Regions from separate parts of the Homo sapiens genome. Here regions 1 and 2 are each linked to region 3. Evidence: fine-mapped expression QTL. A gene starts in region 3. Each other region holds a variant in brackets. All regions are shown on one strand. Distances are between the middles of the regions.

Region 1 (6,279 bases), 34 kb before region 3:
GGGGAGCCCAGACAAACAACTGAACACAGGGTCCCGGTCATCTCAGGTGCCCACCCATCCTTGGAGCTGGGGGAGGCAGGAGGGTTCCTGAGTCAGCAGCACTGGCAGGGGAAGCTGGTTCTTCCTTCAGCCTCCCAGCCTCAGGTCAATCTCAGGCTAGGGGGGGGCTGCCTTCTCGGCATTTCCTTGGTGGGGTGTCCCCCTCCTCTCACCTCCTCCTAGGCTCCCATAGGGCTCTCACCCAGCTCTGGAGTCCGCCTTCAAATCCCAAGACATCCCCTTGCTCATTGGGTGACCTCAGCTAAACCATGAGTCCACCCTGGGCCTCAATTTCCTCATCTGTAAAATGCAGTAAGGACTAAATGAGATGACTCAAAACAAGATTTGAGGCCGGGCGCGGTGACTCACGCCTGTAATCCCAGCACTTTGGGAGGCCGAGGAGGGCAGATCACGAGGTCAGGAGATAAAGACCATCCTGGCTAACACGGTGAAAACCCATCTCTACTAAAAATACAAAAAATTAGCCGGGCGTGATGGCACAGACCTGTAGTCCCAGCTACTTGGCAGGCTGAGGCAGGAGAATCACTTGAACCCAGGAGGCAGCAGTTGCAGTGAGCCGAGATCAGTGCCACTGCACTCCGGCCTGGGCGACAGAGCGAGACTCTGTCTCAAAAAAAGAGTTGAGCACAGGACCCAGCAGGGTTTGTTCCTAGTGAACCAGCTGTGCCTAGAATAGCGCCTGGCACATAATTAATGCTCGACACATTTAAAACAACAGATTAAAGCCGGGCACAGTGGCTCACGCCTGTAATCCCAGCACTTTGGGAGGCTGAAGCAGGTGGAATACGAGGTCAGGAATTCGAGACTAGCCTGACCAACATGGTGAAACCTCATCTCTACTAAAAATACAAAAAAAAAAAAACATTAGTCAGGTGTGATGGTGCATACCTGTAATGCTCAGGAGGCTGAGGCAGGAGAATCACTTGAACCCAGGAGGCAGAGGTTGCAGTAAGCTGAGATCACGCCACTGCACTCCAGCCTGGGTGACAGAGTGAGACTCCGTCTCAAAGAAAACAATTTTAAAAAATAGATTAAAGATCTGAGGCCGGGCACGGTGGTTCACACCTGTAATCCCAGCACTTTGGGAGGCCAAGGTGGGCAGATCACTTGAGGCCAGGAGTTTGAGTCCAGCCTGGCCAATATGGTGAAACGCTGTCTCTACTAAAAATACAAAAATTGCCGGGCCCACTCGCTCACGCCTGTAATCCCAGCACTTTTGGAGGCCAAGGCTGGTGGATCACCTGAGGTTGGGATATCGAGACCATCCCGGCTAACACGGTGAAACCCTGTCTCTACTAAAAATACAAAAAATTAGCCAGGTGTATGGCACATGCCTGTAATCCCAGCTACCCTGGAGGCAGAGGCAGGAGAATTGCATGAACCTAGGAGGCAGAGGTTGCAGTGAGCCAAGATATTGCACTCCAGCCTCGGCAACATGAGTGAAACTCCATTTCAAAAAATAAATAAATAACAAAATAAATAAAAATAAAAATATAAAAATTAGCCAGGTGTGGTGGCGCATGCATGTAATTCCAGCTACTTGAGAGACTGAGGCAGGAGAATCGCTTGAACCCGGGAGGCGGAGGTTGTAGTGAGCCAAGATCGCACCACTGCACTCCAGATTGGGCAAGAGTGAGACGCTGTCTCAAAAAAAAAAAAAGAAAACAAACAAAAACAACAACAAATAATCCATACTGTTCAGGAGTTAAGTCCACAGAAGTGGCGGTTTGGTGGTTGATGGGATGTAAGTAGGCAGGTAGGTGAACAGGATGGCATGCATTGAAGGTGTCTTCGGACGTAGGTGCCCCAGTAAAGGCTATATCTGTGCATATCTCCCTGAATCCTCATAGATACCAGAACAACCCTGTTTTATAGACAGTAAATGGAAGATACGTGTAGAGAAGTGACTTGGTCACTCCTCTGCAGAGGGAAAGAGAAAGGGTGATCTCAGGGAGCGACAAGTGGGGAAGCTCCAAGGGAGGTAGATTAGGGTCAGTAAGGAAGTGGGAGGAAAACCAAGAGTCTGACTGAAGAAGGCAGGCCCTGGCTTTCAGAAGCTGGCCCAGATCCCAGCTGAGGCCATGACCCTCTCGAGCTGCCCAAACCACGGACTCAACTTCTTCCTAGTGGCTCCTGGGGGGCCAGATCTGGCAGGCTGGAAAATTCCTGGAGTGGTCTAGGTTGGGACAGAGCTAGGCAGGGCCCAGGATGGAAGGAGAGAGATGAGGGAGTGGGAGAAAGGGTGGGCTTACTGAGACTCCAAGACAGGGTCAGCAGACCAGCCCAAGCCAGGGAGGAGTGAATACCTCATCCCATGTGGTATGCAAATGAAGCTGAAGCTTAATAAGGTCTTGTGTCCTTTAGGTCCAGACAGAAGGGAGCAATGGATTTAGGGCCTCCTCAATCTACAGAGAGTGAATAGTGTTGTGTGCCTCCATGAAAGAAAGGCCAGACAGGTAGGGGGAGTGTTGGGGCTGACCTACTCTGTCCTTGTTTTATACAAGGGAGGAAGCTGAGGTTCAGAGAAGTGACCTGCCCAAGGTGACAGGTGAATAATATATGAGTCCCTGGACCTCTAACCGAGTGCTCCTTCTCTGGAGGCAGGACTCTCAGCCCTGACACTCGCTGAGCCTGGATCCTGAGTATGCTTTTCTTGGCTCATGCTGGGCTACAGGAACGGGGATCTGGGCACACCTGCTCCCTGCAAGGACTGTCAGGATTGAGGCCCAAGGGGCTGGGTATGTGGACATTACCACAGACCTGTTGGAAGGTGGGGCTTTGTGTTTCACTTCTCTCTGGTGCCCCAAGTGCTAAT[C/A]CTGCCTCTGCCACTTTCCCTCTCTGGGCCTGTTTTCTCATCTGCGAAATGCGGGCTAATATTAATTGCTACCATTTATTAACACTGAGCACTTAGTCTGTGCCAGGCACTAGTTATTCCTTTAATCTTATGCCCATTTTACAAAGGAAGAAACTGAGGCCAGAGAGGTTAACTTGCCCAAAGTCACACAGCTAGTATATTGCAGAATCAGGATGTAAACCTAGTCCCCTCATGACGTCTCAGAGGTTGCAGCGAGAATTAAATGAGACAGTAAGTTAATGGCCTCACTCAATGAGAGTGCAGGAGAAGGTGGGAGTTAGGGCCCTGTTTCCCAGCCTGGAGTGGAAACACTGGGACCACAGAGTACACTCTAGGCAGTGCCAAAGGAGGCCCCGGTCTGGGTGGGGGAGCCCAAAGGCACCCCTGAAAAGCCTGGGAGGGGGCCAGAGAAGGTAGCATGGAAGAGAGCTGCCTGAGGCAGAGTACTGGCACTTGCAAAGATGTCTAGAACTCTCCAAGGAGCTGGGGCCAAGAGAGGTAGCGTGGGGCCCAGGCTGGGACTGCTGTTATGTGTGGCCTGGGGGTGGACCTGATGGCATCTGCTTGACCCACAGGTCCCAGTGCCCCTCCACACCTACTAGGATTAGTAAGGAAGTGGGAGGAAAACCCTACTAGCCCTGAGATCCCTGGCTGAGAAGGGCAGAAGCAGTGGGGAACCTAAGTTATTGGCTCTGAGTAACCTCTGGCAGGTTCGGGGGTCTCTGGGGACCTCAGTTCCCCATCCAAACCAAGGGACAGCTGCTGGCCCTTGCCCTCTACTCTGAAGCACCATCACTCAGGCTATGCTGCCACACTGTGGACACAGGAGGAACTGCGGCAGCAAGCGCCTCACACCTAACTGGAGGACCCCAGCCCTGACACTGCCCGAGCCCTTAGTTTTCCATCTCTCACAAAGACAGTGGATTTTCTTTTTTCTTTTCTTTCTTTTTTTTTTTTTTGGGGGGGGGGACGGAGTCTCACTTTGTCACCCAGGCTGGAGTGCAATGGCGCGATCTCGGCTCACTGCAACCTCCGCCTCCCGGGTTCAAGCGATTCTCCTGCCTCAGCTTCCCAAGTAGCTGGGATTACAGGTGCCTGCCACCATGCCCGGCTAATTTTTTTTGTATTTTTAGTAGAGACAGGGTTTCACCAGGTTGGCCAGGATGGTCTCGATATCTTGACCTCGTGATCCGCCCACCTCGGTCTCCCAAAGTGCTGGGATTACAGGTGTAAGCCACCGTGCCAGGCCTTCCTTTCTTTCCTTTTCTTTTCTTTCTCTTTCTCTTCTTTTCTTTCTTCTTTTCTCTCTCTCTCCTCTTTCTCTCTCCTCTCTCTTTTAGACAGTTTCACTCTTGTCGTCCAGGCTGGAGTGCAATGGCACGATCACAGCTCACTGCAACCTCTGCCTCCCGGGTTCAAACAATTCTCCTGCCTCAGCCTTCCGAGCAGCTGGGATTACAGGCGCCCACCACCAGGCTGGCTAATTTTTGTATTTTCAGTAGACACAGGGTTTCACCATGTTGGCCAGGCTAGTTTTGAACTCCTGACCTCAGGTGATCCACCCACCTCAGCCTCCCAAAGTGCTGGAACTACAGGCGTGAGCCACTGCACTCAGCTAAGAAAGTGGTTTTCTTATTGATTTTGACAGTCCTCTGCACAGCAGCACCAGTGATCCTACATCTGTTCACATCACTCCTCTGCTCAAACTCTCTATGGGAATCTAGTGGTGTGCTGGAGCCCTCTGCAAGAGCCAAATGGCAAATTTTCAAGAACTTTTGTGAGTCAGTTGTTAAAGTCATTAAAAATTAATTATATAAAATTAAAATTACACTAAAAACTAAGGGTAATATTAAAAACTAAGCATTTCCTACTTATTTTGCCACATTTTCCTATTATCTGTACTCTTGGATTACATCTATTGTATCTGTATGGTGGAAACACTATATATTGGGGTGTTACTGCACATTTCTTCACAGCTCGATGTTCAGTGACCTTACCTTGATCAGCTGCAATCAGCCATGATAACCCCTGGACTTAAGCAATCCTCCCGCTTAGCCTCCTGAGTAGCTGGGAATACAGGGTGTGCTGCTGTGCCCAGCTCTATAGTTTTCTAGACCAGTACCATCCAACAGAAATATAATGCAAGACACATATGTAATTTTCATTATTGAGTACCCAGATATAACAGTAACAGAAAACAGGTGAAATTAATTTAAATAGCTTTTTTTTTTTTTTTTTTTTGAGACAGAGTCTGGCTCTGTTGCCCAGGCTGGAGTGCAATGGCACGGTCTCGGGCTCACTGCAACCTCCGCCTCCCAGGTTCAAGCAATTCTCCTGCCTCAGCCTATTTTATTTAACCCAGTATGTCCAAATTTAACATATGTCCAAAATAGTTTTTTTTTTCTTCTTTTTTGGGGGGGTTTTGAGACAAAGTCTCGCTCTCTCACCCAGGCTGTAGTGGCACGATCTTGGCTCGCTGCAATCTCTGCCTCCTAGGTGCAAGCCTGCCTCAGCCTCCCAAGTAGCTGGGATTACAGGCGAGCGCCACCACACCTAATTTTTGTGTTTTTAGTAGAGACGGGGTTTTGCCATTTGGTCAGGCTGCTCTCAAACTCCTGACTTCAAGTAATCCATCCACCATAGCTTCCCAAAGTGATGGGATTATACGTAGGCCACCATGCCCAGCTCAAAATAGTATCTTCAACAAGTAATCAATATAAAGTTCTTAATGATTTACATTGTTTTTTTCATACTAACTCTTCAAATTCTGGTATTTTACACTAAAAGCACATTTCAATTCAAACTAGCCACATTTCAAATACTCAATAGCCAAGTATCAGTGGCTGCTGTACTGAAGAACACAGGTCTAGATTTAAGAAAGTGATGAAGAGGGCCGGATGTGGTGGTTCACGCCTGTAATCCCAGCACTTTGAGAGGCCGAGGTGGGCAGATCACCAGGTCAGGAGATCAAGACCATCCTGGCTAACACGGTGAAACCCTGTCTCTACTAAAAAATACAAAAAATTAGCCAGGCGTGGTGGCGGGTAGTCCCAGCTACTCAGGAGGCTGAGGCAGGAGAATGGCATGAACTCGGGAGGCAGAGCTTGCAGAGAGCCGAGATCATGCCACCGTACTCCAGCCTGGGCGGCAGAGCAAGACTCCGTCTCAAAAAAAAGAGAAAGTGAAGGAAAATATTAATGATTCAGATTAAATTTAAAAGTACTGCTATAGCTGAGAAATTTTAATCCAACTAATATTTGAGGATGAGAAAGCAGATGATATATCAGATTTAATGGCAATAACTTTACTGGGAGAAGGGCATGTAGGGGCTGATCCATGGCCTCCACAAATATCGGGTCATTATC
Region 2 (6,078 bases), 61 kb before region 3:
TGGGGGAATGGACTACACACCGATGTAGTTGGCTTTGGGCTCCATCTCGACTTTGGTGGGGAGAGGGTGCCACCTTCTGGACAAGGAACAGTATGAGCAAAGGTCTGGAGGCTGCTTTTGAGAAGTAGCCTCACGGAGTCTTTCCAGGATGGTGGGGCCGTAGGGGAGACAGAAGCACCTAGTGCCAGGGCTGGGAACCTTGGCTCAATTATCTAGATTCTTGTGAACAGGAAAGGGACACGTTAATTAGAAATGGCATGAAGGGCCTGGAGAGGGCAGGCAGGGAAAACTCCATTTAAAAGCCCTTCTGAAAGGATATCCCTAAAAAGACCTTGAAGGGGAGGGGGAAACAGAAGCAGTCAGTGAGCCACGCTGCAGGGCAGGGCTGGTTCCAGAGCAGAGGGCTGTGTGGGTGAGGTTCCTGTCTCCAGATCCCTTCCCTGCCATGCTCATCCTTCCTGCCAGGTGGGCCTGGGCTTGGGCTACCTGGAGCTGCCACAGATCAACTACAAGCTCTCCGTGGAACATAAGCAGCGTCCCAAGGTGGAGCTGATGCCAAGAATGCGGCTGGTAAGAGATGCAGGAGGAGGGCGTGGGGCCAGATCCCTCCCCGTTGGCTGGGCTTTGACCTCCAGACTCCCGGTCCGCAGCTGCAGAGTCTGCTGGACACGCGCTGCGTGTACATTCTGGACTGTTGGTCCGACGTGTTCATCTGGCTCGGCCGCAAGTCCCCGCGCCTGGTGCGCGCTGCCGCCCTCAAGCTGGGTCAGGAGCTGTGCGGGATGCTGCACCGGCCACGCCATGCCACGGTCAGCCGCAGCCTCGAGGGCACCGAGGCGCAGGTGCGCTTGCAGCTTCGGAGGCCCCTCCCCAGGATCCTTCGCACCCTGACATGCCCTGACCCCTGTGGCTTCACTACCTCCCTACAGAGCTGGGCCCAAACCCACCTCCTCTTTGCTGACTCTGCCCAGGCCCCGCCCCCTCTGCAAGCTGCCCCTCCTATTCCTACCTCCGTGTCCGAGGCCCCGCCTCCCAAGCCCCGCCCTAGATCTCCCTTGGGTCCCGCCTCAAGCCTCGGGCTACTTCCTCCAACTCTAATCATGCCGCACCCCTCATGGTTAGTTGATGGCCTCCCTGGCAGGTGTTCAAGGCCAAGTTCAAGAATTGGGACGATGTGTTGACGGTGGACTACACACGCAATGCGGAGGCCGTGCTGCAGAGCCCGGGTCTCTCCGGGAAGGTGAAACGCGACGCCGAGAAGAAAGACCAGATGAAGGCTGACCTCACTGCGCTTTTCCTGCCGCGGCAGCCGCCCATGTCGCTGGCCGAGGTGGGGGCAGGGCCGGGACCGGGGCGCGGGGGGGGGGGTGGGGGGCAGGCCGAGGGCGGGGCCTATGCGCAGAGCGCGCTCAGACCTGCCGCGGGGCGGGTCCCTCTCACCTGCAGGCGGAGCAGCTGATGGAGGAGTGGAACGAAGACCTAGACGGCATGGAGGGTTTCGTGCTGGAGGGCAAGAAGTTTGCGCGGCTGCCGGAAGAGGAGTTTGGCCACTTCTACACGCAGGACTGCTACGTCTTCCTCTGCAGGTACCACCTCAGCACTCCCTTCCCCAAGTCCCTCCCCTGGTGCTGGGGGCTCGAGCCCCTGCTCACAACCTTCCAACCCGGCAGGTACTGGGTGCCTGTGGAGTACGAGGAGGAGGAAAAGAAGGAAGACAAGGAGGAGAAGGCCGAGGGCAAAGAAGGCGAGGAAGCAACCGCTGAGGCAGAGGAGAAGCAGCCAGAGGAGGACTTCCAGTGCATCGTGTACTTCTGGCAGGGCCGTGAAGCCTCCAATATGGGCTGGCTCACCTTCACCTTCAGCCTGCAAAAGAAGTTCGAGAGCCTCTTCCCTGGGAAGCTGGAGGTGTGCCTGGCAGCCCCGCGAGCCCGAGGCCAGGCGGAGGGGTGTGGTGGGGCTCAGACCCAGCGAAGGTTAGGCTCCCGAGGGGCAGGTGGGGGTCCAGGGAGCTGCCCCTAACACTTCCACATCCCCAGGTGGTACGCATGACGCAGCAGCAGGAGAACCCCAAGTTCCTGTCCCATTTCAAGAGGAAGTTCATCATCCACCGGGGCAAGAGGAAGGCGGTCCAGGGCGCCCAACAGCCCAGCCTCTACCAGATCCGCACCAACGGCAGCGCCCTCTGCACCCGGTGCCTGGCTGGGGGAGGACGCAGTGGCGAGCAAGCGTCAGGGAGCCAGGCCTGAATCCTTGCTGATGCCCCATCCCTTCCACAGGTGCATCCAGATCAACACCGACTCCAGCCTCCTCAACTCCGAGTTCTGCTTCATCCTCAAGGTGGGGTTGTGGGTGTGAGCCAGGACTCCGTGGACCAAGGGGTGGGGTGTTTGGGGGCTGAGTCAGCTGCGAACACCCCCACCCCTGCACACTCCCCAGGTTCCCTTTGAGAGTGAGGACAACCAGGGCATCGTGTATGCCTGGGTGGGCCGGGCATCAGACCCTGACGAAGCCAAGTTGGCAGAAGACATCCTGAACACCATGTTTGACACCTCCTACAGCAAGCAGGTCAGGAGGCGGGCGGGCAGGCGGGCACACACAGAGGAGCCAGGGCAGGCAGGGGCCCTGGGCTGGACTGGCCTTTCCCGCAGGTTATCAACGAAGGTGAGGAGCCTGAGAACTTCTTCTGGGTGGGCATTGGGGCACAGAAGCCCTATGATGACGATGCCGAGTACATGAAACACACACGTCTCTTCCGGTGAGGCCAGGGCCCTGACCCTCCCCTCAGTCCTGGCACTGCTGCTTATGACCTCTGGCCTCACCTTGACCCTTGATTCCCAGGTGCTCCAACGAGAAGGGCTACTTTGCAGTGACTGAGAAATGCTCCGACTTTTGCCAAGATGACCTGGCAGATGATGACATCATGTTGCTAGACAATGGCCAAGAGGTGTGATGTTGCCACTAGCCCTGCCCATCCAAGGAGGCGCCCATAGACTTACTTACAAATGGGAATTCTCGGGCCAGGAGCAAGGGGCTGTTCCCAGGCACCCATGCAACCGTATCTCCCCTGCTGCCCCCACAGGTCTACATGTGGGTGGGGACCCAGACTAGCCAGGTGGAGATCAAGCTGAGCCTGAAGGCCTGCCAGGTAATCTGGGTGGAGGGAGGGCCGAGGTGGGCCTGTGGGCAGGGCAGGGTCATCACCCAAGGCTCGCTGTCCCCTTGCCAGGTATATATCCAGCACATGCGGTCCAAGGAACATGAGCGGCCGCGCCGGCTGC[G/A]CCTGGTCCGCAAGGGCAATGAGCAGCACGCCTTTACCCGCTGCTTCCACGCCTGGAGCGCCTTCTGCAAGGCCCTGGCCTAAGACAGGCTGGCACAGCCCCAGGCTTGGTGAGGAAGAGGAAGGGGCCTCATCCACTGTCTGCTAGCAAAGAATGTACTCAGGTGACACCACCTGCTCCAGCCACGTCCAGTGCCACAGTCCCCAGTAGCCTCAAGCAGCACCAATGGGGATGACCCTGACAGGTGCCCTCAGGGGTCTGGGAAATCCAACTCTCTCCACAGTGTGAGTGCACGTGTGAAGCCCCCTCACTCTTCCGCTAGGGATAAAGCAGATGTGGATGCCCTTTAAGAGATATTAAATGCTTTTATTTTCAATATTAAAAATCAGTATTTTTAATATTAAAATGGCGCTAATTTTAACAAAACGACAGAAAAAAACCCCAAGGTACAATCTACAGGGAAACTCATCTTGACCCCCCCCCCTGCCCCCCCCCCCCGCCGGACACACACACCTGACTAGGCCCCAGATGTGGGTGCCCAGCAGAGCTCCCAGTCACATCCATGCCCGCACACACACACTCATGACAGGCTGGGGACTGGCCCAGAAGCAGGTACCAAAATAGTTTAGTTTTAGAAACAACTGTCCAGCCCAGGCGCTAGAAAAATACTCTTTGCAGGGCTGGGCATGGTGGCTCACGCCTGTAATCCCAGCACTTTGGGAGGCTGAGGTGGGTGGATCACGAGGTCAGGAGATCGAGACCATCCTGGCTAACATGGTGAAACCCCATCTCTACTAAAAATACAGAAAAAATTAGCTGGGCGTGGTGGTGGGCGCCTGTAGTCCCAGCTACTTGGGAGGCTGAGGCAGAAGAATGGCGGGAACCCAGAAGGCGGGGCTTGCAGTGAGCAGAGATGGGGCCACTGCACTCCAGCCTGGGCGACAGAGCAAGACTCCGTCTTTAAGAAAAAAAAAAAAAAGGAAAAATACTCTGCAAAGTGAGGGGGAAGGATGGTGTGTGGAGGGGGGGAGGTGGCACAGGTGCTGGGCCCCACCTGTCCTCTTCCCTAGGCAGTGGGCCCCCAGGGCAGCCAAATGCCTGCAGGAGGGCTCAGTTCTGGCCCAGGTCCCAGGCCCACACCCTGGGGCTGGTGCTGCTCCAGGGCCCAGGGTCAGGCGGGACAGGACAGCAGGTCCCAGTGGAGCCTACAGGTTAGCAGGCGTGGTTCTATGTTAAGGGGCCAGGCAGGTGCCAGGGATCCAGCACTCCAGCTCCGAGCAGGGCAGGTGGAGGTCGGGATAGTTCTGGCCTTCCTGGAAGAGGGAGAGAAGAGGTATCAGCAGAAGGTGAGGGAGGGCAAAAGGGCAGATGGATTGCCACAGCGGCCAGACCACACAGGTGCTGCCACTGTCTCCTCTGCAGGGCAGGCATGGCCCTTCAGTGACCACCTGAGATGGGCTTGCTGAGTCTCCAGATGGGTATCCAAGCGCCAGGCCACATATGCCCCACTGAGGCCAGGGAGAGGCACCAGACAAAGAGCTGGGAGGTGTCCATGTCCTGTGCAGGGTGAGGCTATGGCCTACAGTCAGGTGCCTGGGAACATGAGGCAGCAAATGCGCTGGGCAGATCTATGGGCCCCACATCTAGGTGAGGATCCACAGACTCAGGCAGGGGTAAGTCAGCCACTTGCTGGGCCCAACCGATGAGACCTGACCTCGTGCACCTCAGTGATCTCATCTATGAAACAGGCTGGCCAAACCAGCTCCCAAGCCCCAAACTACTGCCACCTCTAAGTGGTTTAATCTGGTCTTGTTGGCCGGGTGCGGTGGCTCACGCCTGTAATCCCAGGACTTAGGGAGGCCGAGGCGGGTGGATCATGAGGTCAGGAGATCGAGACCATCCTGGCTAACACAGTGAAACCCCGTCTCTACTAAAAACACAAAAAATTAGCTGGGTGTGGTGGCGGGCGCCTGTAGTCCCAGCTGCTCAGGAGGCTGAGGCAGGAGAATGGCATGAACCCAGGAGGCAGAGGTTGCAGTGAGCCAAGATCACGCCACTGCACTCCAGCCTGGGCGACAGAGCAAGACTCCGTCTCAAAAACAAAACAAAACAAAACAAAACAAAACAAATCTGGTCTTGTCCTAACCACCACCTGTCACATGCAAGGGCTGAGGGGCTGGCCCTGCTTTTCTAATACCCAACCATGACACTGGTGTCTGTGTGAGCACCAGAAGTCCCCAATTGAGGCACTCCATGGAAGGCAGCCAGGTTTCAGAGAGTGCCATCACATGGGCCTGCCAGGGTCTCAGGTAGAAGACCAGGGCCAAATGGTACCCAGACGGGCTGAAGGGGGTGGACGTCACCAGTGGTGAGGACCAGGGCCCCACCCCTGCAGCACCTCATTTGATCAGGATGGCACAGGCGTGGGCCTCGTCTTCTGCCAGGTTCCTCAGGTTCTTCTCTGACTCCTCAGAGGAGCTGCGAGATGGGGATGGTGCTCAGGGGTGGGGGCGGGGGAGCCCCTGGCAGCCCTGGGGACGGAGGCCTAGGGGACAGGGCAGCCCCCCCTGTGGACCTGCCCACCAGCCTCACCCCAGGAAATCCTTCACATCTTCCACTGTGACGTCCCCTGTCGTGTCCAGCGTGGTGTCAGCACTGGTGGCTGAGTCGATGGACATGGGTGAGAGTGCAGCCTCGGGTGGCTCCGGGGTGTCTACAGGGAGCAAGTCATCAGCCCCTACCAGGACCCTTAGCACCCTCTGCACCTGGGGGCCTAGGGACACAGACCCATAAGGCAGCC
Region 3 (6,279 bases):
CATTTCCTCCCCTAAACTTCCAACACTCCAAAGTGGAAAAGATGTCCCCCTTCAGTGTGCTTCTGCAGTTACCTTCCTGGGCTATAACTTATCCTCCTGTCTGAGGCCTCCATGGGGCTTGAACTACACGAAGGGAAACTGTCATGTTTCAGGCTCCACCAAATCCCTAGTTCCTTCCCCAGTGAGAGAGCAGGGGATCACTGAGTGGTTGTATATGAAAGCAAGCACCCATTTAAGTACCTACCCTGTGCCAGGCCCTATCTTAGACAACAAATCACCACATTTAATTCTAATAGGCTTTGGAAGTTGGCATCATCCCCACTTACAGATGGGAAAGCCAGCTCAGAGAACGCCTACAAGATCCCAAAGCAAATGAGAGAAAAGCTGGATTCAAAGCCTGGGGCAGCACTTTTCAGGACATGGCTGAGCCTCCCACACTAACACCACAGCCAAGTCTGAATCCAGAAAGGGTTGACAGGGACTGGGAAAGCTTTAGGACTTTACTATTCTGAGGAAAAGATGAAGAGAATTTTCCTGATGATGCAATCCTGTTGCTGATCACTAACAGACCTGCATACTAAGAACTCGAAACTTCTGTTCTTAAAATACAGGGTGGGCATGTGTTAAGGAGAGTAGTAGTCCCAAAACCAAAAAAAAATGCCTTGTGATCCCCTCATTAAGCACCAGACCACTACTAGACCTCCTGACAACCACCCTGAGGGCCAATGACTACGCAGAAAATTAATATCCCGCTAAGAGACCAAATGGTCCTTGTGTGAGGTAATTTTTGCACTGAGAACCCGTCAATGGGGTCAGACCCCAACCTGCCTTACACAGCAAGCACCCGGAGAGGGTGTGTCCTGGAAATCCCATCTTAAAGCATTTTGCCAAGACATCCATCTAGGAGCGCCATGAAGATCTGAGAAGCTCAGAAGCCCATTATAAGAAGGCATCTGACAGCTAGGCTGTCCTCTAAGTTTCAGATGCCTAAAGAGCTAAAGTATCGCTTCTGCTACTACTGACTTCCCACCTTCCCACCAGGACGTCTTGGACATTACAAGGCTCTGCTGCCATCCCCAACATGGAAGCAGCCTCAGCTGTTAGACTCAAATGAAACAGATGACCTAATCTCATATCAAGAAGGCTCCAGGGACCCTGCTTCTCCTCATGACTTTGGCCCTACTGACTCACTTCAGAACCTGGGCTGCTCACGACAAAAGCCCAGTGTGTCCTCAACCTTGTATTTGGTGGTGGTCAACCAAGCTGCTCTGAGAACAGCTGCGGTCTAAACCTAAGATGTTTTGGGTATTACTGAATTACATTACTAGGTTTACCTTTTTCAGGACTGGAAGGAGGCCGCTTCCAAATAAATTTTCACTTCACATAAACAGCAAAGGTGTTCCCAATGGCAATCTCCTCTGGGGGCCAGGGCACTGAGCTAATTCTCAGCAGGATCTGGGAACCGAATATAGGCCAAAAGCCTAAGTTCTGCTGCTCACGCAACTGTAAGGCCAAACAGTCAAGAGACCAGCTGTATTCTGTTGTATTCAGTCCTGACTACAAGTAACACGTTCTTACAAAGAACTGATGGGCTCTTCTGCAGCCAGGAGGGAAGAATTTTAAGAGTGTGCTGCTCTGTATGCCTGGCCCAACCACTAATCTGTTCAACTCCAGGGAAGTCACTCCCCCTCCTGGGAATGGAGAATGTGCTTCAATTAAATAATCTCTGGGGCCTTTGCCTGTGACTACTTTCTCTGTTAAGGAATCCAAAAATGGCAGAACAAGAAAGACTTTTAGATAAATTAAAAAAAAAAAAAATTTTAAAGCATAGATTTGTAAATGGAAGGCCAGAATGGAAAACCGGAAAATCACAAAGGGACTTATGCTAAGAAATGGATGGTGGGAAAAAAAAAAATCAAAGGGAACAGCCTTCTGAAAAGATGGCTTTCGATGAATTCTCAGCCAAGTCAGTGATCCCGTCAAACCTGCCTTCGGGGACAGGATTTCCACATCGGTTCCCTATTTTCTTGCTATAGGTATCTTAAACACAAAACCCTTCTCTCGCTCCCTACAATCTACAAACAGAAGAACTGGTCAGAACTGTAAAAAACGCAGACTCCTACGGGCTGCTGCTTTCTGGGCCAGGGTGGGTAGCTAAGGCAGCAGGCGCAGGGCCGCCCCCTCCACCCGGGTGGGTTACCTGAGCACAGTCACGCTTCCCCTGCGCACCGGCAGGGAAAGCACTGGTTCCGACACCCGAATAGGCTTGAACTGGAACTTGCAGCCGAAGCACAGCGCAGAGTCGCTAAAGAAGGACACGGACACGATGGGGCGCTCGAAGATGTGGATGGGGTCCACGTGAGACACGATGCAGCCGCCGGGCTGGTAGTCGTTGATGACGGCGCTGTTGACGAAGCCCTCGGGGATGACGCGGTGCTCCACCAGCTTTTGGATCACCAGCTGGTGCACCCACTCGGGGATCTCGTCCACGTCGCCCGGCGGGTAGAGGCGCTCCTGGCCGGGCCCGCGCTTCTGCAGCTGGGCGCCGTAAGTGTAGCCTTCGCCGAAGAAGTACTTGTTGCGCAGTGGGGCCCGGTCCACCGTGTGCTCGTTGTACAGGCCCTTCTCAGCGCGGGACACCACCTCGTCAATGCGGGCCTCGATCTTGGCGCACTCGTCCTGGCTGAAGAGGCGCATCTGGCGGATGCCGCTCTTCACCTTGCGCGCCTCCTCCTCCTTCTGCAGCTGCTGCTCCTCATAGTCGCTGCGCTCGGGGTCCGAGTCCTCCTGATACTTGCGCTTGGCCCCGGACACAGGGTAAGGTTCGGCGGCAGCGGCGGCTGCGGCTGCGGCGGCTACGGCGGCTGCGGCAGCGGCGGCGGCCTCCCGGCTGCCCGCCTTATAGTTGTCCCGGGACGTCATGGACTTGAGCTTCTCACGCAGGTCCGTGTAGCCGCTGGCGGCCGCCATGGCCCCCACGACGCTGCTCTAGGGTCCTCCGGGGCGGGCGGGGCAGCCGGGCATGGCTCTAAGGGGACGCGCCCCGGGGCCCCCGGAGGGAGGGGGGTCCTTAGCGCCGAACCCCCATGCGTGAGTGGGGGACCCGGCGGGGGGCGTCGAGGGTCCGGGCGTGGGGTAGGGCCTCAGGAGCGGCGGGTCATGCAACGGTGGCGACAACGGGGCTTCTTCCTCCTCCACCTTCTCCACGTCCCGCGGGGCAGGGGCGCCGGCAGCGCCTCATGCCGCGGAGGGCTGCTGCGGAGACGCGGCCCGACTCCCGACCAGACCCTCGGACGCCCGGCCCGGCCCGCACTTTAAAGCTCTCCGCACGACGTCACGGGCAGCCAGCCCGACGTCCGCCAGCGCCGCTCCTTAGCGGGCTCCTCACCGCGCACGCGCAGTGCTGCCGGCCACCGCGGCTCCGCGCGCTACGGGCATGCGCGTGCGTGCAGGCCGGGTCGGCAGAGGCGCCGGCGCAAGCGCAGACAGGAACCGCTTGCCGTCCGCCGCCCCTCCCCCACTCTCTGAGGGGCTTCAAGGGAACGCTCTCAAATAGCAACCTGTCTTCACGCCGCGCCGCCTCCAGGACCGAAGGGCTCCCTCTACAGGGGTGCGCTCATATTGCCAACAGTGTCGCCGTGCCGCGTCACGGCATCGTCCGAACGCCCGCAGACGCCTCAACCCCAGGGCGCATTCACCAGGGAACCGCCACAACGTAGGCCGCTCCGTTACCTCCCCCTTTGGCGCTTCCACTTCTTTAATTGGGCCGTGGGCCACGCGCCGGGCAGGCCCTGACTGGAGTTTCCGGAAGTCGGTTGGTAATCATGCGTGTCAATCAGGCAGTCTCCTTAGCTACTGTGTCCGTCACTTAATTAGCGGCTGGGCGAGCAGCGAGGACCCCTAAAGGAGAAATGGGTGGTTAAATAAGTGCCTGAATGGAGACTCCACCTGAGTAAAGCCCTTAGAACGCCTAAGGAAACTTCTGAAACCCGCGAAAACTTCTCAGACTGCGGGACCTGCAGCACCCGGCCCCAGTTCTGAACCCAGATAGGAACGTCCGGCAGAAGCCAGACGCGCGTTGTCGGGGTACAAGCCAGCCTGCCGCCGCTGCCGCCGCCGCCCGGAGCGGACGTTTCACGAGTCACGTCCCGGTGACGGCGAGCGTGGGGGCGCGCTGGGGTTGGCGTCGAGCCTCCTTGGTGCTGGAGATGGGCGTGGGGGCACCTCCTACGGGGACTCTGGAAGAAAACTCCAGGAAACGAACGGGCGCAAGGCTAAGGCTAAGCTATAGATAATGACTACAGTCAATTCAAAAAAGTTTTGAAGCAGTCAGCAAAGGCGTTGCCGGGCGCGGGGCCTCACGCCTGTAATCCCAGCACTTTGCGAGGCCAAGGCGGGCGGATCACTTGAGCCCAGGAGTTTGAGACCAGCCTGGCCAACATGGCAACCCCATCTCTACAATAAAATTTTTAAAAATGAACTGGGCGTGGTGGCGCGCGCCTATGGTCCTAGCTACTCAGGAGGCTGAGGTGGGAGGATCCCTTGAGCCCAGGGGATTGAGGCTGCAGAGAGCCGAGCTGGCGCCACTGCACTCCGGCCTGGGCGACAGAGCTGCAAAACAAAACAAAAAGGCGTAGCCGTGCAGGATGCACTGGAGGGCTCCAACAAATGGGGGTCGGGGGGGATCTGCTGGAAAATCTCCCATGTCTCCCAGGATAAAGTTCCCCTGCTTTATTTGGCACTCAAAGCTTTTCTTCAAGACTCTTCTGGCCTTGGCTCCTCCTCTCCTCTCTTTCCATGTACACTGAGCCCCAGCCTGGTCCTCATCCTGTAAGCCAGGTCTACAAACATACTGTGTCTCACCTCCTGGCCTTTGCCCAGGCTGTTTGCCATGGCTGTTGCCCATGCCAGTTCCTTATCACCCGTCTCCCTCTCTCTCTCCCCCTTCCCCTCCTCCTCCTCGTTCTTTTTTGACAGAGTCTCTGTTGCCCAGGCTGAAGTGCAGTGGCACGATCTTGGCTGACTGCAATCTCGACCTCCCGGGTTCAAGACATCCTCCCACACCTCAGCCTCCTGAGTAGCTGGAACTATGTAGAGGCGTGTACCACCACACCCCGCTAATTTTTCTGTTTTTAGCAGAGATGGGGTTTCACCATGTTGTCAAATTGGTCTTGGAACTACTGGGCACAAGATCCTCCTGCCTCGGCCTCCCAAAGTGCTGGGATTACAGGCGTAAGCCACTGCGCCCAGCCTGGAATGGACATTTTTTTAAAAAGCTTATCAAGTTTTTACTATGTGCCAGGACCTGTGCATATACTAGCCCAATTAATCGTCCAAACAATTCAATGAGGAGGGCATTATTATTATTACCATTGTATATATAGGGAAACAGGCCCAGAGAGGTGAAATGACTTGCCCAAGGCCATACAGCGAGTATGTGGCCTAGTGATGATTCAAACCCAGGCTGCCTGGTTCCAGAATCTGTGCTGTCCCTCACCGGGGCTCCGAGAGGGGAGAGTCCTAGCTCAAGAGCAGTCAGGGAGGAACACAGGGAAGCTTCCAATGCAGTGTCCGTTATGGGAGAGGCTGTGTCAACCTAGAGAAGAGGTGATTCACATTTTGGCTCAACCTGGATGATCTACTTCCAAGAAGCCGCTTGTAGTCTGTGTGGGAGGCCCCAGTTGTATTCTGAAAGCCAAAAGGGCCCCCTCGTTTTCACTCTGCCACATCATCCCTTCCTGAGCCTCATAGTTCAGCTTGACTAGGGAAAAGGTTTTGGGGCAAAAGAATTAGCCTGACACCCCCTCCCCCTCACACACACCATGTATGATCTCACAACAATGAGAAATGAGGGGCAGAGGGCAGGCCTCAGGGCTGCCTCATGTTGGAGCCCACTGTGCTCTGTTTTGGGGGTCCCTATACTGAGCATCAGCGCCGCAGGCAGAACCCCAGGGGTTAAGTGAGCTGCTGCCAGGCATGGCCCCTGCACAGTGGTAACTTGATTGACACCACACTCTTTCTGGTGAGTTCCTTACTTTCCTCACCTTGGGGTCTGCTTCTGGGGAAAGCCAACCCAAGGCAGTGGTGAAAAGCAGGACAGCCCTGTGGCATTTGTATCAGGGGCTCTTTCTTGATCCTCTCCATCCCAGGATGGTCTGATTGACCCCCTAGTCCTGCCAGCTGGGCCTTCTAATCTCTCCCCAGTTACCAACTTCTCCCCACCCATCACCACCACTAGAATCTATGACAAGTTTTCCAGCTAACACTGCAGCAGCCCCC

Evidence for each region. PIP is the estimated chance that this variant, and not a neighbour inherited with it, causes the effect.
Region 1: its variant is the best candidate, but not a certain one, in a credible set for the expression of ALKBH5 in whole blood (TOPMed, PIP 0.82).
Region 2: its variant is the best candidate, but not a certain one, in a credible set for the expression of ALKBH5 in whole blood (INTERVAL, PIP 0.87).

The regions. Positions count from the first base shown.
Region 1 is chr17:18,215,038-18,221,316 of GRCh38, reverse strand. No RefSeq gene overlaps it. Among named protein-coding and RNA genes, the nearest start is that of LLGL1, 7.5 kb to the left of the region's middle. RefSeq lists an enhancer at 3,637-3,736. The variant C/A (reference allele first, on the strand shown) is at 2,876.
Region 2 is chr17:18,242,421-18,248,498 of GRCh38, reverse strand. It overlaps LLGL1 (LLGL scribble cell polarity complex component 1), which reads right to left. Exons shown (of 23, transcript NM_004140.4): 21 at 5,871-5,991; 22 at 5,677-5,756; 23 at 3,624-4,591. The coding sequence ends at 5,678. It overlaps FLII (FLII actin remodeling protein), which reads left to right. Exons shown (of 30, transcript NM_002018.4): 19 at 466-570; 20 at 651-842; 21 at 1,142-1,330; 22 at 1,447-1,586; 23 at 1,671-1,905; 24 at 2,037-2,191; 25 at 2,277-2,337; 26 at 2,437-2,565; 27 at 2,649-2,755; 28 at 2,839-2,944; 29 at 3,080-3,145; 30 at 3,227-3,684. The coding sequence ends at 3,361. Among named protein-coding and RNA genes, the nearest start is that of FLII, 13 kb to the left of the region's middle. RefSeq lists enhancers at 1-392, 943-1,494. The variant G/A (reference allele first, on the strand shown) is at 3,279.
Region 3 is chr17:18,180,935-18,187,213 of GRCh38, reverse strand. ALKBH5 (alkB homolog 5, RNA demethylase) reads right to left here and starts at 3,386. Exons shown (of 4, transcript NM_017758.4): 1 at 2,201-3,386. The coding sequence starts at 2,970. RefSeq lists silencers at 1,236-1,285, 2,509-2,660, 2,819-2,908, 2,989-3,288, 5,425-5,719 and enhancers at 2,554-3,391, 3,499-3,738, 3,799-3,998.